Linked DNA regions of Homo sapiens. The protein of the gene in region 2 interacts with the protein of the main gene of each other region in a biochemical or structural test. Each region holds a gene or a part of one and is shown on either strand. Other genes may lie near its edges.

What was found.
Region 1: the proteins of NSF (region 2) and GABBR1 form a complex in vitro, tested with the Homo sapiens proteins (one study listed by IntAct).
Region 3: of the proteins of NSF (region 2) and PTPN9, one has a biochemical effect on the other in vitro, tested with the Homo sapiens proteins (one study listed by IntAct).

Annotation. Positions count from the first base shown.
Region 1 is NC_000006.12:29,623,152-29,630,188, forward strand, and holds part of GABBR1 (gamma-aminobutyric acid type B receptor subunit 1 isoform a precursor), read right to left. Parts: intron 5,957-7,037; coding exon 5,936-5,956; intron 4,863-5,935; exon of another isoform or gene 4,641-4,862; coding exon of another isoform or gene 4,496-4,640; coding exon 4,335-4,495; intron 874-4,334; coding exon 739-873; intron 325-738; coding exon 154-324; intron 1-153.
Region 2 is NC_000017.11:46,754,642-46,757,974, reverse strand, and holds the end of NSF (vesicle-fusing ATPase), read right to left. Parts: intron 2,662-3,333; coding exon 2,606-2,661; exon of another isoform or gene 2,602-2,605; intron 2,174-2,601; coding exon 2,152-2,173; 3' UTR 511-2,151; downstream 1-510.
Region 3 is NC_000015.10:75,499,284-75,506,320, reverse strand, and holds part of PTPN9 (tyrosine-protein phosphatase non-receptor type 9), read left to right. Parts: intron 1-317; coding exon 318-646; intron 647-3,281; exon of another isoform or gene 3,282-3,318; intron 3,319-6,931; exon of another isoform or gene 6,932-7,037. UniProt on the Homo sapiens protein: Protein-tyrosine phosphatase that could participate in the transfer of hydrophobic ligands or in functions of the Golgi apparatus.

The sequences.
Region 1 (7,037 bases), on a different chromosome or scaffold from region 2:
GGCTACAGAAAGAACTGCACTTAATCCACATGGAATGCGTTCTCTTTCAATGAAGAATCAAGTTCTTGCCCCTAAAAGTGACTCTCACGTCACATCTCCTGGTGCTGGAATTTGAGCTTATGTCCCTTTACCCCTTGCCCAACCCCTCCTCACCGAAGTGAAGACCTCAGTGGTCTGCTGGATGGTAGCAATCTTCTTCCAGCCCCACTTTTCAAAGAGTTTCACGCGGGTAGGGTTGTGGAGTGTGGCTGATGGGTGCGTTCGGAAGAAAGTGGGGAAACGCTGCCGGTTTGACAGGGCTGGTGAGCTGGAGCCATAGGAAAGCTGTGGGGCAGGGAGAGTGAGTGCAACAGGGTCTGTTCACTGAGGACACCAAGAGTGGCCAAGAGTTCCTTTAACCCTCTTCCTGCCTTTGGGTTTCTCTTCCTTACTCTCTCCAAACCTCCCCACCTCTGGTCTGCCTAAGGAAAAGAGATTCTCAAAGGCCCACACACCCCTCACAACCGGGATGCTCTTTCACTGATCTAATTTCAATTCCTTCTGAAGAAGGAGGTCAGCTGCAGCACTGTCAGGCCACTGTTGCTAGGAGGCTGCCTAGCTCAGGTCTGCAGAGGACTCTGAATCTTAGTAGCAGGTCCTCCACACTCCTTTTCAATACAAACCCACAATCGCCATCGTCCCTTCAGTAGAGCTCAAAAGGGAATGACCCCATCTTCTGACCCCCATAGCCCTGCTTACCACAATGAGGTTCCACATCCTAGCAGCCTCAGCCACCAGCGTGGAGACAGAGCTGCAGCCAGGCATAAGGATGATCTTGATAGGGTCGTTGTAGAGCAGCTCATATAGGTACTTGGTGGCTTGGCCTGGATCACACTGAAAGACAAGAGGAGATGAGGGCAAGCTCTCCTGGGGCCCCTCCCCTGTCTGCAATTCCTGCTCTTATCTTTCTCGAACAAATTAGTTCCTTTCTCAATTACTCACTTTCATCATTAATTACCGTTTTCTTCTCCTTTCTGGCATCTCTTCCTGTCAAGTGCCTTTTTTCTCCTCTTTCATTAAACTTCCTTCTCTGTCTTCCATCTGGAGCCTTACCCATCACCTCTCCTGCACACCCCTCCTTTGGTATTAATGAACATACCACCTTACCTCCTTTCAGCTCACCCTCAGACATCCCCCTTCCCTCTGTCACCAAGCCCTTTACCCCATGTTTCTATGCTTCAAACACCAGTGGGTGGAAGAAGTCAGTAGGAATACGGTAAACTCTTTCCACATCCCCAGATAGCTTGCTCAAAGCCATATTATGAAAATTCCTTCCTCACCTCTGCAAACCCCTTCTCCCCACCTTCCATTTGTTTCCTCCCTCTTCTCTTTTCAGAGCTAGTGATAAGTAAAGAGAGAACAGGAACAAGACCAGTAGGGGGTCCCGCTCAGTGATCCATCCCTCCTGCTGGGCGCTGACATTTGACAGGTCCATTAGAAAAAAAGACACTGGGGGGTGGAAGTAGGGAAGAATGTAGGATGAGGAAAGAACAGAGAGAATGAATAGAATGGAACTCTCAAGAAACCAGACAATTTGAGAGGTGCCTTAAAGAGAGGCTTGGAGCTAGGGAAAGTAAACAAGCAGAAAGCTGGAGAAGAAAGGAAGCTTGGGAGGAGGGGAAATGGGGGAGGAAGAGCCAGCCTTGGGTCTCCCACTGCCTGTTCCCCTCCCACTGATATATGACATTTCAGAAGCTGCTGGAACCCCAATGCATGTGAAGACGAAATGGCAGCCAGTGGGGAGCCAGGGCAGAGGGGACACAGACAGGGGGCTCAGGGGACTAAGGAGGGTGAAATGTTGCCAGGAGGGGAGGATAAGTAGAAAGGAAATAAAGAAAGCACTCTGGAGCCTGCTTACCTCCCACTGAGGCCTGACATTTGGGACACGGTGGGAAGTTGGAGAAGGGGGAGCCAGGGGAAGCTGTTGGAATCTGAAGAACCAGCAGTCACTGAGAATTCTCTGTTGCCCACCCTACCCTCACTCTGGCCAAGGGCAGTGCTCAACAACATTGGAAGGTTTTCTCTTTATGCCTCCCACTAGGGCAACTTTGTAAATCTTTACCATTCTCAGGACCCACCTTCCTGCACTCTCCCCACATCTATTACTCCAGATCCTGCTCCCAGCTTCTCCCACAGCCCCTCAGTGCCCCTCCACTTCTCTAAAGACAGGGTTAATAGGAACAATGAGGACATACAAGAACATATAAGATACATATCAACAGGGCAAGGCATGCCCCCCATTTTGTTTCCTGATTTCTTATCTACCTTTTCTTGCAACCGTTTCCCTCTTCCACACACTATTCATCACTGCAGATTCTCTCCACCACGTGATTCTCTCCCCCTCCCCAATAGATTTCCTTAGTTCTCCTCCCTCTCTTTGCTCTTGCAAGGATCTGGATTTGCAGGCAGGAAACCGACTCATTCCAATTGACACATTCTGGTTCTTCTGCCTTCCCATCCCACCCCGCTTGATGCCTCTGATGTTCTCCAGTTCCCTTCTCCCAGGTCCCACGTCTGCTCCCCGCCACCTCCAGGGAATCACCTGTCATGGTGGATGAGTTTGAGCTCACAGCCAGGCCTCCCCTATCTCCTGTGATCCCCTATCATAAAGCCTGCACCCATCTCTCCCTGTCATTTTCTTCACACTCCACTCCCCAAAACCAATGATCTCTCTGACTGTCCCAAGTCTGACCCTCTACCAGATCTGATCCTCTACTTCTCTTCCTGCCTCCCGTACCCTAATACCTAATTATTTTCCTGTACCCTGCTGCTCTTCCCATAGGCATTCTGGGGTTAGCTTACAGCTCAGGAATCCACCAAGATAGGATGTCTATTAGTAAAAATACAGATAAATACTTGGGATTCATCCCTGACCAAGGAGCTAGAATCTGTATTTTTAACAAACTCCTCTGGTGATTCTTATGTACACTGAAGGCTGAGAACCACGAGAAAGTAACAGTCAAAAAGGATTTTAAGTTCTCTTGCCAAGCTCCTGATAATCCTTGTGCTCTCTTCTCTTCAAGCACCCTACCTTCAACCTCACTTCTGTCCCCTCACACACCTATCCCAGACACACACCTATTTCTAGGTGTATAGTGATGTTCTAAAAATGAATATAAATCCTTGGATCACCCCAAGGTTGATATTTGGTAAGATCACCAAATTCTCACCTTGTGTACTCTATTTCACCCTAACCCAATTCCTTAAGTCTCTGGGGCCACATGTCAGTGAAGATAAATTTGAGATCTTAAATCTCCTTCCCTGTGTCACATCCTTCCCTGCACCCCCAATTATTCATGTAGGGGAGAGGGGTGGGAAAAAAAACCTCATTATAAGCTATCCCCTAATACCCCTGGACCCAAATTTGCTTACCTTCTCTCTCTCCCTCAACTCACCTCCCTAATCCCTACATCCCATTTCCCTTCTCACATCCTAGAGGCCACAATGCTATAAGGGAAGGGAAGGTCAGGACCCAAGTTCCATAAGGTGCCCCAAGATCTCTCATTATCCCCACGCTACCTCCTTGCCCCTCTCCCCCACTGCCATTCTTTTCTGTTCTCTTCTCCTTGTATGTTGACTCTTCTTCATCCCCATGCTATTGTGGGGGTTCCCATGTGGATCCCCAATCCAATTCATTTTCCCAGTGCCTCTGCCCACCTCTTGATCATTAGCCTTCCCCAATCACCATATGCCATCTATCCCACAGTCTGGGAATGCTCAACAGGGTTGGGAATAGAAGGATGAGAAGGAGTCAGGTAGGGCTCACCACTACCTTGCTGTTTTGTTAAGATAAATAAACTAGAGCTCTCAAGTCTCTCAAAATTTTCCTCATTCTGTCCCTATTCCTTCCAGCTCCAACCTACGCCAAGATTTTACCTTGTTACCATGGTAAATGTAAACCCCCAATCCAGCTCCCCACCTCTGACATTCCCTCCACCCCCAACCCATTCCAGGGTTAGTTTACTCCCTCAGAGGATCAGTGTCTCCTAATACCTTAAATCCACCACCAGTTTCTCCAAACCCCGACACTTCTGCGAGACTCCCGCAGCGGGGCAGAAGGGTCTGCCTTGCAGCATGCTTAACCATCTTGAGCCCCTAGACCCTCATCTTGGACCTCCAGCCCCTGCGACTCTCCCCAAGCTCCTGCACCCCCAGCCCATCTCCTGCCAGTCACACAAGGGAGGGGTCTGCCTCGCAATCCCAGAGACGACTCAGACAGATGGGGGCGCGTGCAGCTGGCTGGCCCCCTGCCCCGCAAGCCCCCACCTCCCACCCACCCCCATGTCCAGGGCTACCTTGCTGTCGTGGTGGATGAGCTTGAGCTCATAGTCCGGCAGGATGTCCCTGCGGCTATTCACGTCCTCCAGCGCCATCTCCACCGCGGGCTGGCAGGCCTGGCCCCCTGGCCAGCCCCCGCTCATGGGAAACAGTGCCCCGATGTACACTGCGCGCCGTTCTGAGGAGGGGTGCGGGGGGACCCGCGAGTGAGGCCGCGGGAGATGGGGGGAGTGGGAGGCCCACACCGGAGCCACCCCTGCCGCCATCACAACCAGAAGCGGCAGTGGCCACCCCACCCGGGCAAAAGGGGCCCCGGGCCCCATGGCGTGGGGGGCAGGGGTAGCTGTTGGGGAGCGTTAGGAGCTCAGGGGGGACACTTTTCCTGGGGAGGGCTGCTAAGAGGGTGCCGGGGAGGCGCCTCCATCCCTGATTTTGTGGGGAGGAGGGGGCGAGGGCCCCGGAGAAGCAGGGAAGGTTGGCTTCCTACGGCCCCCGCGGCTCTCGCCACCGTCGCCGCCACCGCGGACTCTCCTCGCGGACTGACTGACCGACGGAGGGGAGGAGGAGGAGCAGGAGGGAGATGTGGGGCTGGGAGGGGGCTCTGACGTCACGGGCGGCGCGCGGCAGCGGGGGGTGGGGGGGCGGGCGGGAGCTGGGGAGGCAGGAAGGGGGCGGGGAGGGAAGCGAGCGCCGAGGTGGGAGCGACAGTCGGAGGGGCGGGGAGGGGAGGGGGGATGCAACCTCGAGGAGGAAAGGAACGAAAGAGGAAGGGAGGGATCTCACTTAAGGGGACCCGAGGGGAGGAGAAATGGGGACGGGGCGTGCCAGGAGGGCGGGGTGGGCGGAGGGAGCCGCGGGAGGCTGAAGCACGGAGGAACCAGGGTAGGAAGGGAAGGATGCGAGTGGGACGGGAGAGAAACGGGGCTGGCGCCTGAGGTCTGAAGTGGGAGTATGAGTCGATACAGTGAAGCACTGAGGATGTGGGGGAGAGGAAACGGTTTTGGAGGGAACGAGTTGGGTACGGAAGGGAGGCTGGTTTGAGGGAGTGGTGGGGTCGTGGAAGGGAGCCTGGGGCTGGGTAGACAGAAGCCTAAGAAAGGGAGACAGGACATGGAATTGAGAAAAGACGAGGGAAGGGGTACACGGAAGGAAAAGATGTGGGGAAGAGCGCGAGAGGCCTGGCCAGGGTTGGGATGGGTGGGACAGGCTGAGAAAGTCCATTAGGTGAAATCCTAGGAGGCAGCAGGCTGGAAAAGGTTCCAGCGAAGGTCGCAAGGAACCCCACAGGGGAAAACGTGGTGGGAGCTCAGGGTCTCCCAGCACCCTGCCGCCCTCTGCTGGGCTCTGCCTGACACCGGCGAGGCTCAGTCTGGGAGGAGGTGGAGCCCAGGGAAGTGTAGCCAAGCAGGGACAAGGAGAGACCGCAGCCTCGTGGAAAACCGGGACTGGAGGCAGGAAACAGGTAGGGAGGGAAGGGGGTGGCCGCAAACTGGGGTGGGTTGGGGAAGGTGCGAAAGGACGACGCCCCGTAGCCTAAGGGCAGAATTTCAGGGGGGTGGAGGGTGCAGAGTGAAGGGGAGGGCATTGCAGTGCGCGCGGTAAGGGTTTCTCATCTCACCTGAGTGTGGCGTTCGATTCACTGGCAGCAGGAAAGACGGGGATCAGAGAAGAGTTACCACTGGCGCCCAGCTTCCCTGGCCTGATCCCCAGCCCCCTCCCACACCTGTCCATGCTGAAGACCGGGGAGAGCAGAAGCCTGCGTTTCTGAGGGGAGGGTGCCTGGGGATAAGAACAAGGTGGGTCTGGGGGTAAGGGGGTCAGGACTTATTTTCTTCTTCGATTTTTCATAGGACAACAGAATTTGAGACGGGAATGCCAATAGCTAAGTTTGGGGCAGATCTTGGTTCTGTGGTGCCTGAATATTACAAAATTGGGAGTCTTTAAGAAAAAAAATTACACATACAATTGGCTTTAAGCAATTGCTGTTAAAATCTTATTTCTGCAATTTTTACAAAAGCCTGTTACCATATGAACACATATCCATCGAGCCCTCTATATTATTAGAGCACAGGAAGAGGGCCCTGTAGGTGAGGAACCTTGAAGTCTAAGTTTCAGTAGTGTCATAAGTCCACCCCTGGATGGGACTCTCAATTTCCAGAATAAAATGGTAAACTAGAAGCAGAATAACTGAGTTATGTGAGGAAAGTAAAGCCCAAGGATCTTGAAAGAATCTACCAGGGTAGAGGAAGTATGAGGCATACAAATGGGATGACTGCATCCCAGGAGAGAAGATGGCAGAGAGTTCGGGTGCCTAGAAAAGGGAGAGTTTGTAAAATTACGTGGCAAAAAAAAAAAAAAAAAAGTAGACAGACACAACACTGATTCCCTTAGGGAATAATGGAGGTTGTCTAGGAAGTACAGAAAAGGACCTGTCTTCTTCCCACCCCATCCCTGAGTTGTTCTTCATCTTCTGATAATGCTGCCTCCAATTTTAAGTCTTTTACCCTAATATGTTTCCACCCCCAGAGCTCCCCTTCTCAATTTTTCTTAGTAGAATGTTTGATTTATTTCTGAGTCTTTACAATAAATCAATTATATAAGGAATGGTGAGGGATGAATTCTAGAAGAGGGTGATGCATGGAAATTTCTAAGTTTAGAGAAAGGGAAAATTGGAGTATTTAAACCTGAAGAAGGTGAGAGAGGTGAGATTCATAAAGGAA
Region 2 (3,333 bases):
TTGCCCAGGCTGAGTGCAAGTGGCGTGATCCTGGCTCACTGCAACCTCTGCCTCCCAGGTTCAAGCAATTCTCCTGCCTCAGCCTCCTGAGTAGCTGGGATTATAGGCATGTGCCACCACACCCGGCTGTTTTTTGCATTTTTAGTAGAGACAGGGTTTCACCATGTTGGCCAGGCTGGTTTTGAACTACTGACCTCAAGTGATCCACCCACCTCAGCCTCCCTCTCGGATTACAGGCATGAGCCACCGTGCCAGGCATTTTTTTTTTTTAGTAAGATAAAATAAGTATAAAGCATAAAGATGGTTGTATATTAACTTTTTCTGATACTCTAATGATGTTTTTAAATAACTATACTTTCTAAATAAGAGATTTTTAAAATAAAAATCATCCCTCATGTTATGCTACTTGTAACAAAACACGGAGAGGTTTCTTTCCTGAGCCCCCTCCTTCTTCCTCCATTCCTATCAGCTGTTCATGTCGTTCTATATGAAACACTGGTCTACAGAACATTTTCAAGTATATTTACTCTTTATTGCATTCCTTCATTTGCATTAAACAATATTTTTTCAATACAGTTTTGGACAAAACACAAAGACATTAAGCTCATTTAACAAGAGACATAAGTTAACACAATGTGTGCTGCTTTCATGAGGAGGAAAGAGGCAAGATCTTAGAGGAATCCAGGATACTGGCCACCAGGAATCACAGGATCTCACAATACAATCCACTTCTTTAAAAGCCACAAAATAAGCTAGGGAAGAAAACCCAAAACAAAGAAGATATGACATCCAAGTCTCCACCAAAAGTATACAAATGGCAAGATTTGGAGATGATCTGCTTTCTCACATGAGGACAAATAACAGAGGAGCCACACCCAAGTGCCACTGTGGCCACAAGCCTCATGGGTGGCGTGTGAGGTAAGCACCTTAGGATGGCTTCTAATTGCTTGTCCTTGCATTTTAAGCAGCAGTTGGGAGAGAGAGGCACACTCCATAAGTCTCATCACCAAATATGACCTAATTAAATTCCTGCTAAGTCAGTCAGTTGTAAGACAAATCACCCTCAAAAGGACTCAACGGGTGCTTCCTTTTGGAAGAAGTGTGTGGAGGGTAAAGGAAATGTGTTCAATGTATTGGAATGGACAATAAAGGACTGAGGGAGAGGGCTAGAAAATGATTGATTTTTCTGGAGAATAGTGTTTTAGACACTAGATAGTACAGATCATTTAAAATAAAGGATAAATTCTAAGTAAGTCATTAAGCTAAGGAAAAAGCAGTGATACTAGTAAGCCTTAATATTATACTAAGGAATTGACCCACTTGGAGTTGGACACTAATTAGTGCTGAGAGGTTTGTAAATTACTTTAATAACTCCTTTCTGTTTGGGGGTGTATGCTTTTTCCATACCTATCTTTCACATGTTTTTAACAACATCTTCTAAGTGGTAATAATGAGCATATCTCTTACCACAGAGCAAATTAGTTATACTTAAGGGGAAGTCACAACCAACACGGTAGTCATCTGACTTTCTATTAAGAAAGATCTTCTGACTGCAACTTGAAAACATCTCTGACAATGATTGAGAACAGCATTTTAGAGATTCAATGCCTTGTTTCTTCAGGCAAAGAGAATACCAGTCTTGTGGGAGACCTTTAACCAAATACCCAGTGACTTTTAGTGTTAGCTCAGGACAGCTGTCAGAGGATCTCTGGCCCACACCTCGATTTACTAAGCCAGATTTGCATGTAGAAAGTCTGCCTTCTAATCGGCCAACTGTTGTCATGCAACATTCATGACACTGACTGAGAGTTTTCAAGGGTGATGGTGCTAGTAGAGAGGTTGAAACGTGTAGTGTCCACAAGTACTGGATGGTTCCCACCCAGAGGGACTGAGCAAGAAGGAATCACTTTAGCCTGCATGGGAAGGTAAGCGCAGCATTCTAAACCAAATTGACACCTTCCACGAGACACTAAGCTATCTCAGTATGCATAAGGAAGGGAGTTTTATTGCACTAATCATGCAGAGCGAGCACATGTTGAAGGTAGAGAACGTTCCACTTAGTCCAGTATCTTGAGTAAGACAGTGAAGATCCTAGGCCATCTTCACCTTGGTCACTTCCCTTGGTCACTGTGTGTTTCAAATAGTTCATTTTCAATCAAAATCAAGGGGGCTACTGCAAAAGAAATACCAAAACACAAAAAAACAGATGAGGGTCCGTAAAAAACTATTCATCAAAAAAAAAAAAAAAAAAATCACTAAAAGCTTCTTAATGGTTATCCTACATTTCCCACTATGCATTTGCTATTAGATGAGCACTTCACAAAAGAAAATGGTCACAGCTCCATGCATGTAAAAGCAGGTTCCAATAAATATGTACCATTAAGTTTTTCCTGCATTGTGACAAGGAAGTTTTGCGAAGCAGGACAGGGAGAGCAAACCAACAGTACAACCAACTTCCTTGCTTGGTCTCTCGGACCTACAACACAGCGAAGAATTCAAATAAATGGAAACAAACTTATCTAGGAAAGCAACTCTTAGAATAGGCACAGGGATTTAACAGGGTGGTAAGTTTGGTTGATGGTCATTAAATGTTGTATGTACTTACGCTCCTTCTTCTCTTAAGAGGGCCAAGAATTTTCTCACACGGTATTCAGGATCCATCTAAATACATCAGAAGAAATGAAGATGGGTTAATGGTACCTTCTAACAACTCTGCACTTGCTTCATGAGAAGGCAGTGTTCGGTTTCACACTTCATCAATGCTCTGCTAGGTCACTGAATGTGTTACCTGCTCCTTGACCAGCATTCTCACACAAAACAAAGCAGATCACATCATTTGGAGGAAGTGAATGGGGTTTTCCAGAACTATGTACACTGGGTTCCAAAAGACCCAAGCCCGCTGGCCATCATAGGCACTTGGGCCAGGCGTGCCCTGTGCTGATGCCTGTGAGGCATCGCTGTGAGACTGGACAGGGCCATTCATCAGAGTTCAAATGACAACCAATTCACCTGTTGAAGGTGTAAAAGGCTACTAAAGTCACAGCAAAGTAGAAGATACCAAGTTGAGGTTAATTCAACAACTAAAAAATAGCTTATTAACTCTACATAACCAACCATGTAGCTTTTCTTAGCCTCAGTATCCGTCATATAGTTTCTTCTTTGTAGTAACAAAGTTGTGCTAAAACTAAAAAAATGAAGAGTACTGCTGATTCCTGAAATCATCTCCAGATGAATCTGGGTCTCCTGTGACTGCGAATGTGTCATGAGTCTAAGAAAAGATGGCGCAACTTTGTTTCAGGTGCTTCGTTCAGGTCGTTATTATTAGCTATCTCG
Region 3 (7,037 bases), on a different chromosome or scaffold from region 2:
AGCGATGCTGGGAAGCCTTGTTAATAATATAAAGCTTTTGTTCACTACATCGTCCTTTCAGAAGATGTATAACAGTGTCCCTAATTCCAGGAGTGAATTTTATATACATTCTGGGAGTTCACACTTTTATCTGGCAAATTCATAGGACTTAAATCTCAGGCAGATGAAATGTAGTCTACTACTTTTACAAGTATACCTTGTATTTCAAGAAAATCTTATCCCATCCTCCAAACCTGATATAAATACATTTATTCTTTGTCACTCTATATGCCTTTCCCTCCTCCCACATACTCACATGGTTCTTTCTAACCTTCCAGATTCAAATATTAAAGACATCTGAGGTCACGCAGCATCTGCCCAGGGAGTGTCTTCCAGAAAACCTGGGTGGGTACGTCAAAATTGATCTCGCCACTTGGAATTTCCAGTTCCTACCCCAGGTGAACGGCCACCCAGATCCCTTCGATGAGATCATCCTGTTCTCCCTCCCTCCTGCCTTAGACTGGGACTCAGTACATGTTCCAGGTCCCCATGCTATGACCATCCAAGAGTTGGTGGACTATGTTAATGCCAGGCAAAAGCAAGGAATCTATGAGGAATATGAAGACATTCGTCGTGAGAACCCTGTTGGCACTTTCCACTGTTCCATGTAAGTAGAAAAAGTTTGGGCCAGCAGCTGGTTACCAGGATGCTTCTGGTAGGCTCTGGCAACAGCTCCTTCCACCCCTCACTTGCTTAGCAGAGACCCTTCCTTATGTTAGGGAACATCACTCTCACATAAATGATGGTTTCTCGCATGCAGAAAGAGGTACTTTCTGCTTTGGTGCTTCTTTTTTTTTTTCTTTTTTTTTTAAATTTTTATTTTTTTTATTGATCATTCTTGGGTGTTTCTCGCAGAGGGGGATTTGGCAGGGTCATAGGACAATAGTGGAGGGAAGGTTGGCAGATAAACAAGTGAACAAAGGTCTCTGGTTTTCCTAGGCAGAGGACCCTGCGGCCTTCCGCAGTGTTTGTGTCCCTGGGTACTTGAGATTAGGGAGTGGTGATGATTCTTAACGAGCATGCTGCCTTCAAGCATCTGTTTAACAAAGCACATCTTGCACCGCCCTTAATCCATTTAACCCTGAGTGGACACAGCACATGTTTCAGAGAGCACAGGGTTGGGGGTAAGGTCACCGATCAACAGGATCCCAAGGCAGAAGAATTTATCTTAGTACAGAACAAAATGAAAAGTCTCCCATGTCTACTTTCTACACAGACACGGCAACCATCCGATTTCTCAATCTTTTCCCCACCTTTCCCCCCTTTCTATTCCACAAAACCGCCATTGTCATCCTGGCCCGTTCTCAATGAGCTGTTGGGTACACCTCCCAGACGAGGTGGTGGCTGGGCAGAGGGGCTCCTCACTTCCTAGTAGGGGTGGCTGGGCAGAGGTGCCCCTCACCTCCCGGACGGGGTGGCTGGCCAGACCCCCCCACCTCCCTCCCGGACGGGGCGGCTGGCCAGGCGGGGGGCTGACCCCCCCACCTCCCTCCCGGACGGGGCGGCTGGCCGGGCAGAGGGGCTCCTCACTTCCCAGTAGGGGCGGCCGGGCAGAGGCGCCCCTCACCTCCCGGGCGGGGGGCTGACCCCCCCACCTCCCTCCCGGACAGGGCGGCTGGCCGGGCGGGGGGCTGACCCCCCCACCTCCCTCCCAGACGGGGCGGCTGGCCGGGCAGAGGGGCTCCTCACTTCCCAGTAGGGGCGGCAGGGCAGAGGCGCCCCTCACCTCCTGGACGGGGCGGCTGGCTGGGCGGGGGGCTGACCCCCCCCACCTCCCTCCCGGACGTGGGGCTGACCCCTCCACCTCCCTCCCGGACCGGGCGGCTGGCCGGGCGGGGGGCTGATCCCCCCACCTCCCTCCCGGACGGGTCGGCTGGCCGGGCGGGGGGCTGAGCCCCCCACCTCCCTCCCGGACGGGGTGGCTGGCCCGGCAGAGGGGCTCCTCACTTCCCAGTAGGGGCGGCTGGGCAGAGGCGCCCCTCACCTCCCGGACGGGGCGGCTGGCCGGGCAGGGGGCTGACCTCACCTCCCTCCCGGACGGGGCGGCTGGCCGGGCGGGGGGCTGACCCCCCCGACCTCCCTCCCGGACATGGGGCTGACCCCCCCACCTCCCTCCCGGACGGGGCGGCTGTCCGGGCGGGGGGCTGACCTCCCCACCTCCCTCCCGGACGGGGCGGCTGTCCGGGCGGGGTGCTGATCCCCCCACCTCCCTCCCGGACGGGTCGGCTGGCCGGGCGGGGGGCTGAGCCCCCCACCTCCCTCCCGGACGGGGCGGCTGGCCCGGCAGAGGGGCTCCTCACTTCCCAGTAGGGGCGGCTGGGCAGAGGCGCCCCTCACCTCCCGGACGGGGCGGCTGGCCGGGCGGGGGGCTGACCCCACCTCCCTCCCGGACGGGGCGGCTGGCCGGGCGGAGGGCTGACCCCCCCTCACCTCCCTCCCGGACGGGGCGGCTGGCCGGGCGGGGGGCTGACCCCCCCACCTCCCTCCCGGACGGGGGGCTGACCCCCCCCCCACCTCCCTCCCGGATGGGGCGGCTGGCCGGGTTGGGGGCTGACTCCCCCACCTCCCTCCCGGACGGGGTGGCTGGCCAGGCAGAGGGGCTCCTCACTTCCCAGTAGGGGCGGCTGGGCAGAGGCGCCCCTCACCTCCCGGACGGGGCGGCTGGCCGGGCGGGGGGCTGACCCCCCCACCTCCCTCCCGGACGGAGCGGCTGGCCGGGCGGGGGGCTGACCCCCCCACCTCCCTCCCGGACGGGGCGGCTGCCGGGCGGAGACGCTCCTCACTTCCCAGACGGGGTGGCTGCCGGGCAGAGGGACTCCTCACTTCTCAGACGGGGCGGCTGCCGGGCGGAGGGGCTCCTCACTTCTCAGATGGGGCGGATGCTGGGCGGAGGGTCTCCTCACTTCTCAGACGGGGCGGCTGGGCAGAGACGCTCCTCACCTCCCAGACGGGGTCGCGACCGGGCAGAGGAGCTCCTCACATCCCAGACGGGGCAGCGGGGCAGAGGCGCTCCCCACATCTCAGACGATGGGCGGCCGGGCAGAGATGCTCCTCACTTCCCAGATGGGATGGCTGCCGGGAAGAGGCGCTCCTCACTTCCTAGATGGGATGGCGGCCGGGCAGAGACGCTCCTCACTTTCCAGACTGGGCAGCCAGGCAGAGGGGCTCCTCACGTCCCAGACGATGGGCGGCCAGGCAGAGACGCTCCTCACTTCCCAGACGGGGTGGTGGCCGGGCAGAGGCTGCAATCTCGGCACTTTGGGAGGCCAAGGCAGGCGGCTGGGAGATGGAGGTTGTAGTGAGCTGAGATCACGCCACTGCACTCCAGCCTGGGCACCATTGGGTGCTTCTTGCTAACATCCTATGCTCTGAAATTTCTGAAGGTCTTTGGTACCAACAGGATAACCCTGTTGGACATATTTTTGGATATTTTTCTGAAATGCAAGTTTTTTTTAAAAAAAGTAGGTTCAAAATAGGCTACTCTCTATTCCAGTACTCAGTGTGAGTGCTGGTCTGTTCATTTGGGCAGTTTCTCCCCATAACATTTATGGTATAACATTACTTCTTGAGGAGGGGTATGTGGTACACTTAAAATAATCCACAGTCAGAGAGTACAGTTGCCTCATAGGACTTTAACCCCTTGAGATTTTCATTCTACTCAAATCCTATCACAAAACCATCTCGCTAGTTTATAACTCTGGCTCGTAACTAGTTGATAACTATATATACATACATACATATATATATACACACCCACACACAAATTAGCTGGGTGTGGTGGCGCACACCTGTAATTCCTTCCTTCCTCCCTCCCTCTCTTTTTTTTTTCTTTCTGAGATGGAGTCTCGTTCTGTCACCCAGGCTGGAGTGCAATGGCACGATCTCGGCTCACTGCAACCTCCGCCTCCCAGGTTCAAGCGATTCTTCCTGCCTCACCCTCCCAAGTAGCTGGAATTATAGGCGCGCACCACCATGCCTGGCTAATTTTTGTATTTTTAGTAGAGACAGGGTTTCACGATGTTGTCCAGGTTGATCTTGAACTCCTGACCTCAGGTGATCTGCCTGCCTCAGCCTCCCGAAGTGCTGGGATTACAGGTATGATCTACCGCACCTGGCCTCTTTTTCTTTTTTCTCTTCTCTTCTTTTCTTCTTCTCTTCTCCTTTTCTTTTCTTTTATCCTTTTCTTTTCCTCAAATTCCTAGGTTAAAGCGATCCTCCTACTTCAGCCTCCTGAGTAGCTGGGACTACAGGTATGTGCCACTATGTCCAGCTCATTTTTTATTTTTTGAAGAGATGGGGTTTTGGCATGTTGCCCAGGCTGGTCTCAAACTCCGAGGCTCAAGTGATCCTCCTGCCTCAACCTCCCAAAGTGTTGGGATTACAGGTGTGAGCCACCGCACCTGGTCAGATTATTTCTCTTACCATGTTGCTGTCATTTCTCTTACCATGTTTTAATTGGCTGCCCCAGAAATCTCTTTCTCTCCAGCTAGTGAGCTGTGACTGTTGAAAACTACAGAAACTAGGGCTGGGGGCAGTGGCTCATGCCTATAATCCCAGCACTTTGGGAGTAAAGGTATAGGAGGATCATTTGTGCCCAGGAGTTTGAGACTAACCTGAGCAGCATAGCAAGACCCTACCTCTACAAAAATAAAAAACGAAAAAATTAGCCAGGCATGGTGGCACACTCCTGTTGTCCCAGCTATGCAGGAGGATCACTTGAGCCCGGGAGGTCAAGACCACAGTGAGTTATGATCACGCCACTGAGCTCCAGCCTAAGTGACAGAGTAAGACTTTGTCTAAGGAAAAAAAAAAAAAAAGAAAGAAAGAAAAGAAGAGGAAAAAAAAAAAAGAAAGAAAATGAGGGAAGCCATCCTAGTGGGTCCCAGCCTCATATTCCAACTTAACCAAAAATTCCCTCTGTGAGTGACACAAGTTATTTCCCTTCTCAGCACTTTGGTTTTCCTCTGTATAATATGTGACTACTGGACTCTGATATTCACCTACCTTTGTAGCTTAAATGTTTTAGAAATCTAGGATTCTGTGAGTACCTCTTCTCTCTTGTAACTCCTGTCCAGTGTAGTCAGTGTGTTCTGAATAAGATGCAGGGATAGAGTCTTTTAGCAAAGCAAAGAGGGAAAATAATGAGTTGGGGAAAATAATGAGATAGGGAAAGTAAGAGATAAGAGGCACTTGAGAAAGAAGTCAATCAGATCAAGAATGCAAAGGAAAATAAGAGGAGAAAAAGGGGACACAGACCATATATCAACAAGGGAAATTATTCTTTTCTCTCATACAGCTCTGTTTCTTCCCTACCAGCTCCAGACCCCTATTTTTATTTAATTTTTATTTCATTTTACTTATTGTATTTATTATTTTATTATTATTATTTTTTTTAGAGACAGGGTCTTGCTCTGTCCCCCAGACTGGCGCATAGTGGCATGATCATGGCTCACTGCAGCCTCCATCTCTTGATGCTCAATTGATCCTCCTGCCTCAGCCTCTTGAGTAGCTGAGACCACAGACATGCACCACCATGCCTGGCTAATTTTTTAAATTTTTTGTAGAGTCTCCCTATGTTGCCCAGGCTGGTCTTGAACCCCTGGGCTCAAGTGATCCTCCTGCCTCAGCCTTCCAAAGTGCTGGAATTATGGGTGCTACCTATACCCAACTACCAGACTCCCTGTTTATATCCAATCTCTTTTGCAAACAGAACAGTTATTCCCTTAAAGTCTTTTTTGTTGTTGTTGAGACAGTCTCACTCCATCACCCAGGCTGGAGTGCAATGGTATGATTTCGGCCCACTGCAACCTCCGCCTTGTGGGTTCAAGCCATTCTGTGCCTTAGTCTCCCAAGTAGATGGAATTACAGGTGTGTGCCACCACACCCAACTAATTTGTGTGTGTATATATATGTGTGTGTGTGTGTGTGTGTGTGTGTATGTATGTTTGTTTATTTATTTATTTATTTATTTTGAGACAGAGTCTCACTCTCGGCCAGGCTAGAGTGCAGTGCCACGATCTCAGCCCACTGCAACCTCCATCTCCCGGCTCAAGCAATTCTCCTGCCTCAGCCTCCTGAGTAGCTGGGATTACAGGCGTGTGCCACCACACCCGGTTAATTTTGTATTTTTAGTAGAGATGGGGTTTCACTGTGTTGGCCAGGCTGGTCTCAAACTCCTGACCTCGGGTGATTCGTCCTCCTTGGCTTCCCAAAGTGCTAGGATTACAGGCGTGAGCCACCATGCCTGGCCTAATTTGTGTATTTTTAGTAGAGATGGGGTTTTGCCATGTTGGCCAGGCTGATCTCGAACTCCTGACCTCAAGTGATCTGCCCACCTCAGCCCTGCAAAGTGCTGGGATTACAGGCATGAGCCACTATGCCCAGCCTCCCTTGCAGTCTTGAATCAAGGAAATATGTTGGAGCAGGGAGGCATGCTAGGCTGATCTAAGAGGATGCACACTTATCCTGGGGATTCTTCACCTTGCTCTCGGTGCTTTTGCAACTACCAGCTGCTGTGAGGCCCTTGAGATGTCATTTCTACTATGGAGTCTCCCCTCCTCCATTAAAAAAGTGGGTTTGGCTGGGCGCGGTGGCTCACGCCTGTAATCGCAGCACTTTGGGAGGTTGAGGCTGGCAGATCACGAGGTCAAGAGATTGAGAACATCCTGGCCAACATGGTGAAACCCCGTCTCTTCTAATAATACAAAAATTAGCTGGGTGTGGTGGCACGCACCTGTAGTCCCAGCTACTTGGGAGGCTGAGGCAGGAGAATCACTTGAGCCCAGGAGGCGGAGGTTGCTGTGAGCCAAGATCATGCCACCGCACTCCAGCCTGGGCGATAGAGCAAGACTCTGTCTCAAAAAAAAAAAAAAAAAAAAAAAAGTGGGTTTAGATCGTCTTGTTGCCATCATCCAAACCAGCTACCATTTGACAATCAGAGAACAGATCTCTCATCTAATGAGAGGACTTCCTAGTCTTGCCTATTGAATGACTGATTC